2 linked regions of the Homo sapiens genome follow. The protein of the gene in region 2 purifies or fractionates together with the protein of the main gene of each other region. This does not show direct contact. Each region holds a gene or a part of one and is shown on either strand. Other genes may lie near its edges.

Region 1 (3,753 bases), on a different chromosome or scaffold from region 2:
AAACTACTATTGAAATTTGATAAGATGGAGATCAGAGCAGAGAAATGGTGCTAGCAACAGCTGAAAAAGGTACCTAGGCAGGCAGATATATATATATATATATATATATATATATATATATTTTAATTAGTAATTAAAGTAATAGTATTAAAGTAATCAGTGTCTGTGATACCACTGTGTTACATGACATATAGTTTAAAGAAATAATAATTTGAAACTTTAAGGGTTACTCCAGGAAAGACAAAAATAAGTTTCTAAAATTGCGATATAGTTCACACACTATAAAATTCACTATTTAAAAATAATGCCAATTCAGTGGTTTTTAGTATACTCACAAGGTTATGCAACCATCACCACTATCTAATTCTAGAATATATGCATACCCTCAAAAAGAAACTCCATACCCATTAGCAGTCACATCTTATTCCTGTCCCCTATCCCCGGGCAGCCAACAATCTACTTTCTGTCTCTATGGATATACAAATGCAGTCATACTATATATGGCCTTTTGTGATCGGTTTCTTTCACTTAGCGCATTTTCAGGATTCATCCATATTGTAGTATGTATCAATACTTTATTCTAACGGTCAAATTATATTCCATTGTATAGATATATCACATTGCATTTATCCATTCATCAGCTGACAGACTGTTTCTACCTTTAGGCCATTATGATAACTGTGTTATGAACATTTGTGTGCCAAGTTTTCCTGTGGACACACATTTTCAGTTCTCTTGGGTATACACCTAGGAGTGGAATTGTTGGGTCATATGGTTAACTTTACGTTGAATTTTCTGAGGAACTGTCAAACTGTTTCCAAGAGTGCCACCACATTTTACATCCCTGTTAGCGATATATGAAGATTCTGATTTCTCCATATTCTCACCAAAACAGGTTATTTTCCTTTTTTTTCCCCCTTTATTATAGCAATCTTAGTGGACGTGAAGTGGTTTCTCATTGTGGTTTTACTTTGCATTTCTCTAATGACTGATGATGTTGCGCATCTTTCCATGTGCTATGGGCCATTCGTACGTCTTCTATGGAGAAATGTCTATTTACATCTTTTGCCCTTTTAAAAACTAGGTTGCTGTCTTTTTATTACTGAGTTGTAAAATTCTTTATATAGTCTAGATGCTAGACCCTTATCAGATATATGATTTGAAAATGTTTTCTCTCATTCTGTAGATTGTCTTTTTTCACTTTCTTGATAGTGGCCTTTGACACACACATACTTTTTATTTTGAGGAAATAAAAAATAATGAGTTTTGAGACGCTAATAAAGATCAGTTTGCAACAGTATTAAAAGGCCAGCACCTTGTTTCATTAAACACACACACACAATTATAGTAATGTTATAAAACCGTTCATCTTCTTTGTCAGAGCTAGGTAACAGGGCACAAGCATATCACCTGGAAGTCTGACAAGCTAAGATATCTTCCAGTAGAGTAAAAGAGGAGATACCTAAGGACATATGGTTGGTGGGTGACAAAGCCAAGGCCACAGCCTAGGTCTTCCACCTCACAACAGATGCTCATCCCACTACTACGTTAGCTAGCACATTAGATAGCACAAGGCACACTCTGGTATGGGAAGCAATGTGCTGAGTAAAGAAAGAGCACTGGATTAAGCACTGGGGGAGCCAGGTTCTGTAAGTGTTACTAATTCACTGTGTGGTCTTGGGCAAGTTGCTTTGCTTGTGTCCTTGTCTACAAAATGAGGCTGAAGTATCATATGAGTTTCAGGATCTCTTCATTATAAACATTTTAAAGAAACCACTATTAAGCAGAATAGCTTTTAAAAACAAAACAAAAACCTTAAAATGTCAGAACCAGAAGAGACTTTAAAAAATCATTTAAGCCAGTAGTTCTCAACCTGGAGGTAACTGTTAAAATGCAGAGGTAATAGAGACATGTGAAGAAAAATGCAGATATTCAGGCCTAAAAAAAGGTCCAAAAATCTGTTAATTTTAACTAATTCTCAAAGGAGTCTGATGTAAACAGATTAAAGCTGTGCTTTAAGATCAGGCTGACAGGCCAGCCAGGAGACAGAAATCCAGGTATAAGGCTAAAAGGGTCTAGATAATAGCTTCTGGAAAGCATGGTTTAACACCACATATCAACTTTAATAGCCAAAACAAATTAAGCAAGCAGCTTTTCTTTATAACTGCCAGGCAGAAGAAAATGCTTTGATGTATTTGGGGCAAAATAACATACTGCAATGATCTAAGTCAAGTTATTCTGTGATGGAGGCGGAAAGATTATATTTGCATACTTATTTTTAAGATCAGGAAACAAGAATTGCTGTGTTCTTAAAGTCAGTTTCATAAGAGTAGAAATTCACATCTGCTTAGGGAAAACTAGGAGCATATTTGCATCTCTTTATTACACTTCTTTATGGCAAGTGAAACTACAGCTGCAGAAATAAAATAAAAACCCTCCCCGCCCAAATCAAGACACATCAAATTAAATAAATTATATTAGGCTGGGTGTGGTGGCGCACGCTTGTAAACCCCGCACTTTGGGAGGCCGAGGCCGTTGGATCACCTGAGGTCAGGAGTTTGAGACCAGCCTGGCCAACATGGTGAAACCCTGTCTCTACTAAATATACAAAAATTAGCCGGGTATGGAGGCACATGCCTGTAATCCCAGCTACTCGGGAGACTGAGGCAGGAGAATTGTTTGAACCTGGGAGGCGGGGGTTGCAGTGAGTGGAGATTGCGACAAATCGAGACTCTGTCTCAAAAAAAAAAAAAAATTATATTAAAGGTAATAGCTTCTCATTCCCACACAGCAAAAGCCTCTCTATTCATTCAGATCCTGCTCCACTGAGAATAACATTTTTTTCCCCAAGTTCTCTCCCACAGTACCCTCAGTCTTCAAACAATTAGAGGCACCATCCTCTAAAGCTGTTTCTGAAGACTGAGGTGGCAGATCTCAAGTTTTTTCTCTGCGAAATTCAATGCTAAAAGTACTTATCTTGTGTTGATCACTACAGAGAAGCACTCACAGGAAAACGGGCAAATACAAATTGGTGAAATAATACAAGACAGTATGTCATATTAAGTGACAGCTTAATTCCCATGTGCAGTGTAAGTGCTAGAGGAATTCAGGGAGGGAACAGTTCAATGTAAGGCTGAAACTAAGTTTTCCAAGAAAAGGCACTCAAGCAGCTCTTGACTATTCTCTTCTGTCCCTCACTTATTGGTTAAATCTTCCAAGCACTCTTTTGTGAGACCTTTTATCTATTTCTGCTACTCATGTTGGGGTTCTCATCACCTTGTCATTCTATTTTTTACCACAGACAGCCCTTTACAAAGAACATTTACTTCTAGTAGATTCCAAAGGACAGGGAACAGAGCTGGGTGCGGTGGCTCATGCCTGTAATTCCAGTACTTTGGGAGGCTGAGGTGGGCAGATCACTTGAGGCCAGGAGTTCACGATTAGTCTGGGCAACACAGTGAGACCTTGTCTCTACCAAAAATAAAAATAAAAATAAAATAAAAAGGGCAGAGGAAACCAAACTAAAAAACCCAAAGAACATTTACCAGCACTATACAATTTGATCCTTACAACAAGCCTATAATATGTATGAATGTCCACAATATTTACATAAGGAAATTTAAATTCAGTAATATCACACAACTTATCCAAGGTCATGTGGCTTTTATTAGGTAGGTGCAAAAGTTATCGTGGTTTTTGCCATTACTTTCAATGGCAAAAACAGCAATTACTTTTGCACCAACCTAATAACAT
Region 2 (3,753 bases):
GTTGCAATGAGCCAAGATTGTGCCACTGAATTCTAGCAGGGTGACAGTGATACTCTGTTGGAGGAAGGAAGGAAGGAAGGAAGGAAGGAAGGAAGGAAGGAAGGAAGGAAGGAAGCTAGCTATCCCTCTTGAGGAGGATGGTGGGTTGAAGTAAAGAAGTATGGGTACTGGCTGGGTGCGGTGGCTCACACCTGTAATCCCAGCACTTTGGGAGGCTGAGGCAGGCGGATCACAAGGTCAGGAGATCAAGACCATCCTGGCTAACATGGTGAAACCCTGTCACTACTAAAAATACAAAAAAAAAAAAATTAGCCAGGCATGGTGGCAGGCACCTGTAGTCCTAGCTACTCAGGAGACTGAGGCAGGAGAATCACTTGAACCCGGGAGGTGGAGGTTGCAGTGAGCCGAGATTGTGCCACTACACTCCAGCTTGGGCAAAAGAGCGAGACTCCATCTCAAACAAGCAAACAAAAAAAAGTATGGGTACTTCTCTAAGTTACTGAGCGTCTAAGGGAGGGACACAGGGCATCAAGTCAGAGAATGGAACCTTTGAGAACTGGTTATTTATGAGGCTAGGCCATTGGACAAAGAGCCACAGGCATTAAATATTTTAAAAATAATGACACTATTGGAACAGCCCTAATACGAGACTATAACTACTGTCAAACTTTTGACTCAGCACTCTTTGTAAGTAACTGGGTGCCTTCTCAACACTCCTAGTGCAAAGCCTGTTCCTAAGAACACCTAGAAGCCTTCCATGTTGTTGCTACCTACTGTGAATTGCTTCCTGATGCCTCGGTTGACAATTGAGAGAACCCTCTCTGAAGGTCACCCAGGCATCTAGGAAGGGAGAAACTTCAAATTCATTCAACAGACACTAACCTGCTTTTGCCTTTCCCATTCCAACAGTCATCCTCATTGCCGTTTCCTGCAGCCATCCTCTCATCGTTGCAAACGTTGCTCGGAAGGGAGGACCAGAATTTCTTGGCCTGTTTCAGTTTCTCCTTGACATCAGTAACCTAATTATGAAACAACAACAACAAAAAAAGATCATTGTAAGACAAGACAAAACTACCTACAAGTGTGCCTTCTGGCCATTTCCAAAGTATCTCCAGAGTGATATGCAATTCATTTTCAACTTTAATTAGAAGAGGAAGATGCAACTCCAATTTATATCTTAGAAGTACAAAACCACTCAAATAATAGTTGAAATGCAAGCTCCAAAGGAGTGGCCTAGACCCCTTGCCCACCTCATTGTAAGTACCATCTGAGGCCTACCAGTCTCCATGCCCTGTAGGCACAAAGATAACATGCAGTCTCTTCTCCTAAGGCTTTTAGAGTCAGGATCAAGCATGTATATTATGCACTCTGTGAAACATAGCTGCTATTGCTCTTTCTCTCCATCCCTGTCTCCTCAGGCTCCCTCTTCTGTGTTCCTACTACTGTAGGAATAGTTTCTTACATTTTTGTAGCATATTACTGTGGATAAAGCAATTTGCCTACAGTTACTCACTTTTCTCCCATCTCAGCTTTTACTAAACATCATTTTATGTTAATAAGCCTGGAACATCTACTTCTCCCTCTTTGCCTCCTTGTTGGTGCCTTTTGAGAACAAGGATCTGCCTTATTTCTCTGAGCTTCTCTATGCCTAGCACAGTGATGGGCACATAGTAGATGTTCAATAAATGCATGGTGAATCTAAAGAGAAATTTTGAGACAAGACTTATTGCATCATAACTCCTTGGCTACCCAAGAACTTTCTGGGCTAGAAAATGGGACAGGCAGATTGACTGACATCCACATCCTATTTGCTTGAAAAGTGACACCTGAAAGACCCACACTTGTTAGCCTTCCAGCTAAAAATTCATTTTGAGCAAGAGTTTTCAGTTCTTTGTCATTAAACACGGCCCTTCCTGCCAAAACGCTCACCAGTCGGTCCAAACTAGTGCCAGCTGCTGTGGTTGGGCGTTCCTCGGGGTGATGTGGTCTGAAGCGAGCACTGAAGGCACTTTCAGAGATGGAACGAGAAATTCGTCCAGCTGGGAGGGGCTTGGGGGGTCCACATCCCTGGAAAACCTGCATTAGAGTAAGTGTCGTCATGTTAGGGAAGTCACTCCCAAGGCGGGAGGCGGAGGCGGGGGAGGTCCCTAGCTCCCCTTTCCAGCATCCTGCCTTCATTACCTTCTGAGACACTTGAACACTATTATCCTGCATGTTCATAATAGCATCAGAAATCTTCACATCGATGGGATCCATGACCGATTCAATGTTGAAAGGACCCTCTAGCCTCTCTGCCACCATCAGCATAGCATCTAATATGAGGTTTGGGGAAGAACAATACAGCATAAAAAGTCAATCATTAGTTTGGCCTTGGGTAAATCAATCTGATTTTTTTTTCTGTCTGTTTCCTGCATGGGGGCAGGGGAAGTAAGGCATGGATCATAATGAATTCTTGTTTTTATGTCTATTTCCCTTACACCAAACTGCATTTAGTCACTATGTATCACTAGCTCTCTAAAGTGTGAAATGGCCAGATGAAGGCTTAGTTCTACAGCAAGGAAACCCAATCAGGAACTTTCCTCAATACTGATTATTCGTGTGTCAGCCACTGTCACTGTAAGGCTCTTAGTTAGCTCCCAGATGACAAACCTAAGGCTGGAGACAAAATAACATGCCAGCTCTCCCAGAGACTTCCCTAGGATCTTCTCGTTTCACATTCCATTTACAAGAGTCAAAAACATAAATCAGTTAAGATGCTGGCATATTAATTCTTTTCTTTTGTTTTTAAAAACAAAACCCCTCAGATCCTTGAGTGCACCGTTGGATAATACAAATGAAAGGGTTCCTAGGAATTCTAATGACTTTTCAAATACTAAAACTTTGAATAATCCAATTTTTGTATTAAGAAAAACTTCTCATTGCAAATACAATGGCTTCAATTTATCTTAAGGCATGTACCTCCTTTTTTTTGCAAGTGAGAAGATGACACAAGATACAGTACACAAAATTAGTGGGCTCACAGTATATATCTTCACCGATTATCCTGCTTTAGACTCTGGAGTAGCATGGCATTTTCCAGTAAGCACTGAATCGCTTCAATAAAATACATTGTCTTTGTTTTCTTGCCATATATGTTTCTTAGGATTATGAGGCTTAGTATTTTTGCCTGCTACCTGTTTTACAAAATTAGAAGAACTTGGAAATGAAAACCCCAAATGACAAAAAGGATGCTTCATTAACGACAAACAGTGAACTTTTAAACTTGTTTATCCCCCCTTTACACTCTAGTGCTTAGTGCATGGCAAGAAAGGAGTTAGACCCACATTATCTATCATCTTCAGGTAGTGCAAGGATGGTTACTTGAAAGAAGAGCTAGTTCCCGGAAGATTGTGTCCTACCCAAAGAACACAGCTGACAATTGCAGCCCCCAGCTGAGCTTCTATCTAAGCTTTCTAGTGGAAAGCAGCATAGGCATCAGCATATCAATGAAACCAAATCTAGTCATCAAGCTTTCACCTTCAACCTAGAACAAATGCTACACAACATTTTAATGCACGGGGTCATTTCTCTAAACTACAATTCCGATGTCACAAACCACAAATAGATTTCCATGAAATGCAATTTTTAAAACAGTAATAACAAATGAAGTTTCAGAATGCATTGTGGTAAGCGCCAATCAAGTGATGCTTCTAACTCTAAGTAAGGGCTGAAAGCATGAATATACCATTGTACTACAGGAGAGAAAAAAAATGC

Evidence for each region. The genes of interacting proteins can lie anywhere in the genome.
Region 1: the proteins of GPC4 (region 2) and SPCS2 purify together in Homo sapiens (affinity purification with mass spectrometry; 2 studies listed by BioGRID and IntAct, with this or other methods). This does not show direct contact.

Annotation. Positions count from the first base shown.
Region 1 is NC_000011.10:74,952,220-74,955,972, reverse strand, and holds part of SPCS2 (signal peptidase complex subunit 2), read right to left. Parts: intron 1-3,753. UniProt on the Homo sapiens protein: Component of the signal peptidase complex (SPC) which catalyzes the cleavage of N-terminal signal sequences from nascent proteins as they are translocated into the lumen of the endoplasmic reticulum.
Region 2 is NC_000023.11:133,303,843-133,307,595, forward strand, and holds part of GPC4 (glypican-4 precursor), read right to left. Parts: intron 2,313-3,753; coding exon 2,182-2,312; intron 2,077-2,181; coding exon 1,930-2,076; intron 1,020-1,929; coding exon 883-1,019; intron 1-882. UniProt on the Homo sapiens protein: Cell surface proteoglycan that bears heparan sulfate. May be involved in the development of kidney tubules and of the central nervous system.